Linked DNA regions of Homo sapiens. The gene in region 2 interacts genetically with the main gene of each other region. Each region holds a gene or a part of one and is shown on either strand. Other genes may lie near its edges. The genes, in order: SWSAP1 and FIGNL1.

Evidence for each region.
Region 1: of FIGNL1 (region 2) and SWSAP1, a change in one rescues a mutant of the other (synthetic rescue), as found in Homo sapiens cells (one study listed by BioGRID).

What each region holds. Positions count from the first base shown.
Region 1 is NC_000019.10:11,369,572-11,376,694, reverse strand, and holds SWSAP1 (ATPase SWSAP1), read right to left. Parts: upstream 2,030-7,123; 5' UTR 2,015-2,029; coding exon 1,766-2,014; intron 1,183-1,765; coding exon 679-1,182; 3' UTR 526-678; downstream 1-525. UniProt on the Homo sapiens protein: ATPase which is preferentially stimulated by single-stranded DNA and is involved in homologous recombination repair (HRR). Has a DNA-binding activity which is independent of its ATPase activity.
Region 2 is NC_000007.14:50,443,532-50,447,545, forward strand, and holds the end of FIGNL1 (fidgetin-like protein 1), read right to left. Parts: intron 3,767-4,014; 5' UTR 3,757-3,766; coding exon 1,732-3,756; 3' UTR 602-1,731; downstream 1-601. UniProt on the Homo sapiens protein: Involved in DNA double-strand break (DBS) repair via homologous recombination (HR). Recruited at DSB sites independently of BRCA2, RAD51 and RAD51 paralogs in a H2AX-dependent manner. May regulate osteoblast proliferation and differentiation.

The DNA.
Region 1 (7,123 bases), on a different chromosome or scaffold from region 2:
TACCAGGGCATGTGTGCAAGAATGTTCGCAGCAGTAAATAAGGCAATCTGATGAAGAAATCAGGGTATAGTCACCCATGGAATTATATGCAATATGGAAAAAGGAATGAACTAAAAAAATGTAGATGAATCTTAGTAACAACGTTGAGTGCAAAAAGAAGGAAGTCTCAAACTTTTTTTTTTTTTTTTTTTTGAGATGGAGTCTCGCTTTGTCACCCAGGCTGGAGTGTAGTGGCACAATCTCGGCTCACTGCAACCTCCGCTTCCTGGGTTCAAGCAATTCTCCTGCCTAAGCCTCCTGAGTAGCTGAGACTACAGGCACCTGCCACCACACCCAGCTAATTTTTTTTGTACTTTTAGTTGATACAGGGTTTCATCATGTTGGGCAGGCTGGTCTCCAACTCCTGACCTCTGGTGATCTGACCGCCTCAGCCTCCCAAAGTGCTGGGATTACAGGCGTGAGCCACCACGCCTGGCCTGAAGCTCTTTTTATAAAGTTTAAAGCAATGAAACTATAAACAACATATTGATTGGGTAAAATATATACAAGATAATGCTATACTTTTAAAAGAGAAAAAGCACTTTACATTGTTTAGGTCTTTGGATCTGCATATGTCCCTGAGGTAAGTATTCCAGCCATGGGAAACTGAAGCACAGAGAGGTAGTCACCCACCAAAGCTCAGGGCTGGCCTCCAGAGCTTGAACCCTTGCCTGAGCTGGGGTCACCAGCCTGGGTGGGCCACGGAGCGATCATCATTTCTCCATCTGATCGGAAAGTCACCCACCACTCTGTTCTGGGGCCCAGCCCGCCTGGCTCCAGGCAGGCTCGGAGGCCGTGCTCTCCTGGACCTGGTGCATCTGGCTGCAGCCAGCACTGGGCAGGAAAATACCGCTGGAGCAGTGCCAGGTGCAGGACGTCCCCACTACCTGCTTCCTCCTGGGTCTGGAGGGCCACCATGAGCCCACAATCCCGGCCAGGCCCAAGCCGGTGGCTGAAGTGGGCAGCTGTGTCTAGAAGTAAGGCAATGAGGTAGGCGGCTTCCTGGGGCTCTGGGTCTTCCGCTAGGTACTCTTCTAGGCCGTCGAGCAGCAGAAGGGAGGGGGCTGGCCCCGGGGCCTCATGGGCAGAGCACAGGAGCCGGAAAAGCTCTCGGGTTGAGGGTGGGTACTGGAAGCGGATCTTCTAGAAGGAGAAACAGAAGGAAAGGGCCGGATTCAGCACAGGAAGCCAGACTCCTTAAAAGTAACCCTGCCTCCTTGCATACTTTCCTTGGTTCCAGGATGAACCAGTTCAGAGCTGTTAAATATTCTTATATTCGCCCGTTTTTCCAGCACTCATCACTGCCGAGTATTAGTTGAGGGCAAGCCATTTTTGCTTGTTTGTTTTTGGCCAAATCTCTAGCGCAATTTTTCCACGGAAAACCCTCCCCCAGCATTCTCGGTCTGACCCCATCCTTGACACTAACAGGAACCAACTCAGGTCCAGAATGGACCCAAGCTTAGCCCCGCCCCTTGATGGGCCGGACTTCAATCTCTGGGCACCGCCTCTTGCTAACACCGCCCATCATTGGATGGGCTCTCACTTCAATCTTAACTAAGCTCCGCGTGGTGCCACTCCTCACTCCGCCTGCCTGACTCCGCCCCATCGTGGCTGCCCTGGCTCGCTCTTCCACCGTCCTCTCCATTGGCTTGTCTACCTGTTACTCAATATCCCGGATCTACTCCACCATTGGCTAGAACGCCTCTGCTCCCACCCCCACGGTTACCTGGAGTCGCATTGGGTCTAGAGTCGTTCCGGTCCCGCGGGGCATGCTTTGAAGAGGCCTTCGTGTCAGGAAGAGGACTGGGCCTTGGCCCTCCCCCGCCGCCTCTAGGGCCGCAGCAAATAGCAGCGCTGTTTTTCCAGATCCTGGTGTACCGAGCAGCAGCAAAGGCGGTCCGGCGGCAGGCATGTTCTCCTCCCCGGACCAGGCCGCACCGCCCCTGGTTAGCACCCGCCTCAGCGTCTCCGCCATTCGCCGCGTAGCTCTGACCAATCGGTGGCTCGTTCCCAGCCTTAGTCCCGCCCAAGCCGTGGCCGCATCGGTACAGTTCACTTAGTTTCTCTATTGGTCTAGGAATCTGTCCATCAAAACTCGATTCCTCAGGTGAATGGGCAAATGGTTAGAACCTATGCGGAGGAATGGGTGCATTCGAGGGAAATAAGACCCTTCCCTGAGGGAGGCTGCTGGGGGAACCAGCACGAATACTATTATTGTCAGCTAATCAGACAAATATAAGGGTTGAAAGTTGGAGGAGTAGACCAGAATGAGTGACATATTATTTAAAGGCTCCTAGCCTCAGTTTGCCCTGCTGTAAAATGGGGCTTATGATATCTCAGAGGAGTATTGTGATCGGCATGTATTTGTGTGTGGTTTTGCTGATGTCATCCAATGACAACTGAGAGTTTTGGAGAGGGGGATGAGCTGTGTGCTTGTCTTTCTGTGCACCTGAGTATGGGCCGGAGTGTGTGTCTGGGGACACAGGCTCGTGGACAAAACATCAACGGCCATCCCCGAAAGTCTGTGAGATGAAGCCTCTCAACTTACTTCCTCACTGGCTAAGGGGTTCTGTGGGGCCGCCTTTGTGGTACGGGGGGAAGGCAGGACCGCAGGACAAAGAAGGAAGCAGGAGAGATAAAGAGACAGGAGCTGGAAGACTGAAGGAGAGATACAGCAGGGACATTGTCTTGTTCACTTCTGTTCTCCAGTACCGAGAATAGCACCTAGCACATTTGTAGGTTCTCAAATACGTGCTCGTTAAGACAATGAAGGAAGGGAGGTGGGATTGATGAGAAACAGGGAGAAAGGGAGGAACAAAGTGAATGATCGTGATCCCTGGCTGGATCTTCTCACCCAGACTTCGCCCCAGAGCTGCCACTCACGCCTGTGTTGCCCTGGCAACCTTGTCTCCTGGTAACTCCAAAGTGGTGCCGTTGCCTGGAGACCCAGGGGCAGGGAGAAAGTGAGATTTCCTGGGCTTTCTCTCTCCCTCTGGGACCAGAAAACAGCTCCACGACATCCCCCAACACACCCACTCACACAGCTGGGCTCACTCACACCCCTCTACACACACACACACACACACACACACACCATGGCATCTCTGAATATATTCTACTTTCAGAATCCCCATCATCCACATGCTCCAACCTTGCCCTATCCTGACACAAAGCATCCCATACAAACTCTGTCCCACATTCATCCCCCACACCCTTTCTCTTGCAAAACACGCAACTATGACATTGCCACTACACACACAGACACACACAGTGAAGCACACCGATACACTGCGCTGTCAAACACGCCACCTCAGCCCCCATCCCCCAGCAGATATACAACGCATGATTCACCTCACATTTCAACACTCCAAATGCACATACAGGCCAGGTGTGGTGGCTTATGTCTGTAGTCCCAGTGCTTTGGGAGGCCAAGGCAAGAGGATTGCCTGAGGCCAAGAGTTCAAGACCAGCCTGGGCAATGTAGGGAGACCCCCATCTCTACAAAATACTTCAAAATTAGCCAGGTGTTGGCCGGGCGCGGTGGCTCACGCCTGTAATCCCAGCACTTTGGGAGGCCGAGGTGGGCAGATCACAAGGTCAGGAGATCAAGACCATCCTGGCTAACACGGTGAAACCCAGCCTCTACTAAAAATAGAAAAAAAAATTAGCCAGGCATGGTGGCAGGCGCCTGTAGTCTCAGCTGCTTGGGAGGCTGAGGCAGAAGAATGGCGTGAACCCGGGAGATGGAGCTTGCAGTGAGCCGAGATCGCGCCACTGCACTCCAGCCTGGGCGACAGAGCGAGACTCTGTCTCAAAAAAAAAAAAAAAAATTTAGCCAGGTGTGGTGGCGTGCACCTGTAGTCCCAGCTCCTTGGGAGTCTGAGGCAGGAGGATTGCTTGAGCCCAAGGAAGTCAAAGCTGCAGTGAGCAGTGATTGTGCCACTGCACTCCAGCCTGGGCAACATAGCGAGACCCTATCTCAACAAAAACAAACAAAAATGCACAAATACTCAGTAGTGACACCCACATCACAGAGTCCAGCACAGTTACATACATGGGAGCATGCTGAATACAGCCTCACCACAAGTCCTTTGCACTTGATGTTCTTGTGTGTGCAGCAGTCAGCTTCCAGATATCCTTCTGGCTTTTTTTTTTTTTTTTTTTTTTGAGATGGAGTTTTGCTCTTGTTGCCCAGGCTGGAGTGCAATGGTGCAATCTTGGCTCATCACAACCTCCGTCTCCCAGGTTCAAGTGATTTTCCTGCCTCAGCCTCCCAAGTAGCTGGGATTACAGGCATGTACCACCACGCCCGGCTGATTTTGTATTTTTGGTACAGACGGGGTTTCTCCGTGTTGGTCAGACTGGTCTCAAACTTCTGACCTCAGGTGATCTGCCCGCCTTGGCCTCCCAAAGTGCTGGGATTACAGGTGTGAGCCACCGAGTCCAGCCGACTTTTTTTTCCCTCCACTCTTTTTAGGTCTTTGGTCAAAATATCATCTACTCAGAGAGGCTTCCCCTGACTGCCTGCCCAAAATTGCACACATTTCACTCTTTAACTGATTATCTGTTTTTGTTGTTATTGTTGTTGTGTTGTTTTGTTTTTTCGAGACGGAGTCTCGCTCTGTCACCCAGGTTGGAGTGCAGTGGCGCGATCTCGGCTCACTGCAGCCTCTACCTCCCGGGTTCCGGCAATTCTCCTGCCTCAGCCTTCCGGGTAGCTTGGATTACAGGTACACACCACTATGCCCAGCTTATTTTTTTTTCTTTTGTATTTCTTTCAGTAGAGATGGGGTTTCACCATGTTGGCGAGGCTGGTCTCAAACTCCTGACCTCAGATGATCCGCCTGTCTTGGCCTCCCAGAGTGCCAGGATTATAGGCATGAGCCACTGTGTCTGGCCTGTCTTCACATCTTGACAGAAGAAGATTTACCATAGAGGAGAATCATGGAGGAATGTACCTGCCTGCAGGTAGGGTTGGACCTGGGGCTACAGGGTAGGAACTAGGTGGCTTGGGGTCACTCTGTGCCTATCCTTAGTTTACTGGCATCCTCAAGCAATAGTATCTACTATGTATCAGGGCCCATTCTAGTAACTGTAGACCCCACAGTGAACAGACAACAGATCAAATCTCTGTCCTGGTGGAGCGACATCCGAGTGAGGGAGACCTATAAAGACCCACTGAGCATCACGAGGAATTGAAACACTGTGAGCACATGACAAGCATAGGCAAAAAGACATTTGCACAAGGGACCGGGCACGGCGACTCACCCCTGTAATCCAAGCACTTTGGGAGGCTGAGGCGGGCGGATCACCTGATGTCGGGAGTTTGAGGCCAGCCTGACCAACATGGTGAAACCCCATCTCTACTAAAAATACACAAATTAGCTGGGCGGGGTGGGGCGCCTGTAATCACAGCTACTCAGGAGGCTGAGGCAGGAGAATCACTTGAACCCAGGAGGTGGAGGTTGCAGTGAGCTGAGATCGCACCATTGCATTCCAGCCTGGGTGACAGAGCAAGACTCCATCTCAAAAGAAAAAAAAAGAAAAGAAATTTGCACAAGGAAGGGAAGTTAGAAGGAAGGGCCAGTTGTTTTTTCAATTTTGAATAGGGTGGTTGGGTCAGGCTGGGAAGGCGACATTTGAGAAAAGGCCTGAGAGAGGTCAGGGTGTGAACTGTGCAAATATGCAGGGGAAGAACATTCTAGGTGGAGAATTCATTCAGTGCAAGGGCCCTGAGGCATTGGGAGAAAGTTGGCTTTTACTCGAGTCATGAGGAGACAGGAGAGAGCTCTGTGCCTGGGATAGTTGTGTTGTGACATTCTAAATCAGAGAGCTCTGTTTTAGTCAACTTGAGATTGAGATGCTGTGAGACCCACAGGGGCATGTTGAGAAGGCTTTTGATTTTTGTTGTCGTTGTTGTCGTTTTTTTATTTTTTGAGACCGAGTCTCGCACTGTCACCCAGGCTGGAGTGCAATGGTGCGATCTGGACTCACTGCAACCTCCGCCTCCCGGGTTCAAGTGATTTTCCTGCCTCAGCCTCCTGAGTAGCTGGGATTACAGGCGCATGCTGCCACTCCTGGCTAATTTTTGTAATTGTAGTAGAGATGGGGTTTCACTATGTTGGCCAATCTGGTCTTGAACTCCTGACCTCAGGTGATCTGCCACCTCAGCCTCTCTGAGTGCTGGGATTACAGGCGTGAGCCACTGCTCCAGGCCTAAACGCTTTACTTTTTAGAGAGCAGGGTCTTGCTACATTGCCTAGGCTGATCTCAAACTCCTGGGTTCAAGCAATCCTCCTACCTAGACCTCCCATAGTGTTGGGATTACAGGAATGAGCCACTTGTGCCCAGCTGAGAAGGCTTTCATTTTTTTTTTTTTTTTTGAGCTGGAGTTTCGCTTTTGTTGCCCAAGCTGGAGCGCAATGGCATGATCTCTGCTCACTGCAACCTCTGCCTCCTGGGTTCAAGCGATTCTCCTGCCTCAGCCTCCTGAGTAGCTGGGATTACAGGCGCATACCACCACGCTCAGCTAATTTTTTGTATTTTTAGTAGTAATGGTGTTTCACTATGTTAGCCAGGCTGGTCTCAAACCCCTGACCTCAAGTGATCCGCCTGGCTCGGCCTCCCAAAGTGCTGGGATTACAGGCGTGAGCCACCACGCCCAGCCAATCCCAAACAGGTACAAGCCAGCCTGTGTTCTCTAAGATCATCTATCCCAGTATGGGGGTTGGTGCAAGGCCAGGGCTGCTGTCACCACCCTCCTGAATGGGACCTGATTCTTCCCCCACTATTCCCATTGTTGGCCAGCGCTCTGCGTCAGCATCACAGACAGGGCCTGCTGGTTTGGGTGGTGGCGCTGTCCGTTGTGCTGAAGCTTTGCTTTCTTCCTGGCCCCAGTGGAGACAGCTGTGTGTCAGGAGAGACCACGGGTCTCAGGTGTATAAGCTCTGGAAACAGGAGCCTTGGTCAGTCAATCAGGGGGCCTCATGATGCTGTCTTTCCTCTGCCATCAGCTATCTGATGCTCTCATCTCATCCCCCCAGTGGCCCATGATCAGCTCCACCATCTCCTCAACTTCCCCACC
Region 2 (4,014 bases):
CCATCTCGATTAAAAATACAAAAATTAGCTGGGTGTGGTGGTGCAAACCTGTGGTCTCAGCTACAAGGGAGACTGAGGCACAAGAATCACTGGAACCCAGGAGGCAGAGGTTGCAGTGAGCTGAGATCACACCACTGCACTCCAGCCTAGGCAACACAGCGAGACTGTTTCAAAATAACCAAAACAAAACAAAAAATGAATTCTAATGAAAGACAATCACATATTACAAAGGGAAAAACTAAAAATTGCAACAATCTTTTAACATAAAAACAGAAGGCAAACCAAGAATAAAAATTTAAACTATATACACAAACTGTCTAAATTCAACAACTAAAAGTGTTTCAATTTGTCATTTCAAATTGCACTGTTCACAAGAGAAAACATTAGAACTTAAATATAACCTCCACGAGACCAAGGATATTTGTGTTGTTCATTGCTCTACGTTCACTACCTTCAGTTTTTTGAATAAATGCAAAAAGAATGCCAACAAATACCAAAACTGCCTACTGCCCAATGCTGCCATAGCTCTGATTCAGTGCAGATGGAGTTTTACACAGGAACTACTTTTTCAAGAGGACAATTTAGAATGCAAGCCAAAAGCTTTAAAAAGTGCATATTCTTTAATCCAGGAATTACTCAAGAAATTTATACATTTTTTAAAAAGATCACCAAATGCATCCCACATAGTTCCTTTACAATAAACAAAAGATAAACAACCTAGCGTCCTGTCCTATATGCGCTCTACCAGATGACTCAATTATATTCCATCCATCCATGGAATCCTAGACAATCATAAAAGGACATTTATGTTAACATGGAAAGTGAAGATACGCTTTGAAGAATAGGCTACAAGAGAGAATACATTACACAATCCTACTGCTGTATAAAACAAAACATCTGGAAGAATCTATGCTTAAATATTAATAGTGTGTCCCGCAAAGTGGTAGGATAATAGTGACTTTTATTCTTTTTACTTATCTCTATTTTCTCATGTTTCTGTAATGAACATGTTTCATAAAACAAAATGGGTCTGTTATAAAAATCTGAAAACTTGTTTTTGAAAGAGAGCAGTATTACAGGCTGTAGTGTCAAATAAAATATTAATGTTAAATATCACACGCTCCCGTGAAAATAACCAACATTCTTAATTAACCTTTCAGTTCTGTGAATCTAATACTAGATCACACCTTGCTATTTCTGAAAATGTTAGTCCTGATAAAAATTAAAAACCATAAAAGAGGTAACAAATTGGCTGAAGAAAGTAAAAATTGGCACTTTAGCTTTGAGATCTTAAATCTACTTAAATAACACTAAGCAATACTTTGTCCAAATGTAAACCATTATACTAGCTGACATTAAGAATTATGTGGCCATCAGAAGGCACTTTCTTCAATAAAAGATGAATATTAATCAGACACAACTTTATATGTAATCTTCAACTAAAAAAAATTTGAGCTCACTTTTCATGTTATATAGCTTCAAGATAAAGACTTCTTAGAAACAAAAGTTCATTCTCACTTTGTTCAAATAGGCTTACGTATCAGGTAATCACTGGAAAGCAAAACTTACATTAACATACACTATGTCAATCAGATGTAAAATCTGTGCTATTATTTGAAGTACAGAACTTAGAATATATTCTTAAAAATACAATTAACACATCCCCAACTTTCTATGCTAAAAAATAAAGAAGACTGTACTACAGAGATGCCTTGATTCCAAGTATCCCACTTACTTTCCACAACCAAAAGTTTTGTTCCAGTTTTCATAAAGCTCTAAATCTTTTGGAGAAACACTAGGTCGCACAGTTCTAAAAGCATTTTCAAAATCAATGTAAGCTATGGGTCGAACTTGATCCGGTGTTATGGTAGCAATGTCAGCAGTTTGTAAACTGCGAATAGGACCAAGAGAAGCCTCCCTGCAAAGCTGTGTCATGTCTGCTCCTGAAAACGCATCAGACTGCTGTACAATCTGTTCAATTTCTTCTTCACTGAGGCAACACTGCTCTTTGGACATTAGATTAATTACTATCTGTTTCCTGGCTGAAGCTTCTGGGAGGGGAATATAAAGCCTTTTCACCAATCTTCTCCGGGCAGCCTCATCAATTTCTTGTGGCCGATTTGTTGCTCCCACCACTAGGATACGATCTTCAGAAGATGTTGTTGCTCCATCTAATTGAACTAAAAATTCTGTTTTTATCCTTCTAGAAGATTCATGCTCACCATCTCCCCGTTGAGATAACAAGGAATCAATTTCGTCAATAAATATCACAGCTGGTTGCTGACACCTTGCAACAGCAAACAATGCACGGACCATTTTCTCCCCCTCACCTACCCATTTAGAAGTTAAGGATGAAGCAGAGATGCTAAAGAATGTTGCCCCAGACTGACTAGCAATGCACTTGCCAATTAGAGTTTTACCAGTCCCAGGAGGACCAAAGAGCAAAATTCCTTTAGGGGGTCCCCTTAAACCAGTAAAGATGTCTGGCCTCAACATGGGCCACACAACTATTTCCTTTATGGTGGCTTTAGCAAATTCTACTCCTGCAATATCTTCCCAATTTACTGGAGGTCCATGATCCATAATCTCATTCATAATAAGTTCAATCATCTTTGGCTCCAAGTTCTTCAGACGCTCATCAACTGGATGTGCTGGTTCTGTAGGTCCTGCCCCATAAGGCTTACATTGCATTCCTCCATTCTGCTCTCCCCCATCTTGCTTGGGTATAGGAGGAACAAACTTTCCAAGTATCCCTCGGGATCTACTAGCTCCTAGAGACTTTTTTACACCACCATATGAAGACCCTGATGCACGCTGAGGTTGGTGGTACTTTTTTTGCTGATCTACCCATAATTGTTCTTTTGCAGTTTTAAATGTAGGCAGGCTGCTATCCTCCTTTGGGCCATTATCTTCTGTTTTACTACAAGCCTTATTCAGTATTGGATTGGAAAGTGCATCAATGGTGCCAGAACCATAAAAAGACTTCCTCTGTGGATTTTCACAGGCAGCAGGAAAACAAGACTGGTTAGATAAGAACACATTAAGTCCTATGTTTTCTTTTGCAGAGCTGTGATTTTCCTTTTTGACATTTCCAAACAATGGTGTGACATGGAATTTTGCAGTAGCTGACTCACCTACAGGTGCTGAGAATGTAGGACAAGTCCTAGCAGTGTTAGTCACCATAGGTGGCTGGGCATTCTGAAGGAGTTTCAAACGATTGCTCTCCGGGAAGTCTTGGGTCCGGTCTCGATCATGAGCTGAGTTAGGTAATGAGTCACTCTCTTGAGAACTACCACAAACACTAAATTTAGGAAGATCAAAGACAGTGGCCTCCTTATGGATTACCACTGATGCAAGAGCAGGTTCCAACAGAGAGTCTTTGAATTTTTTGCCAGCTTGCATCATCTTCTGTACACTACTCATTTTGAAAACATTATTTATTGACAATCCAGACTGCCACTTGTCACTATCTGTTTGTTGAGATCCTGCCAAAGTTAAAATGTTTTCTGCATAATTATTCAACCCAGATTCAACATTGTCAGAATCAATAATTGCAGAATATTTCTCTGCATATTTTTTGAACAGTTTGGTAGCACAGACCTGGGAAATCTCAGAGTTTGCCCATGCATACTGAATGCGTAATATCTGTGCACGGTATGCATCTGCCTTCGGTCCGGTACATATGCCAGATGTAATTGCGAAGTAATTCTTCTGCCATTCACTCAGGTGCACAGATCTAGAGCTGGAGGTCTGCATTTTAGAGGTTCTATAACAAACAATAAAAATGAAAATCAGTATGAAGGAAAACAAAGAAAATACTTTAAATGTAATTTTGAAACTTCTGCTAATCTGAAGGAAGGGACACTGGACTTTTTATTTATAATGTAGATTTATAAGGACAGGTTATAAGAGAAATATCTAGTTAACTATAGATTTCAAGTATTCAAGACATATCAATATGAAGTCTTCAAAATTAAGGACTTGATTAAATAATAATTTATATGAGTTAAATTG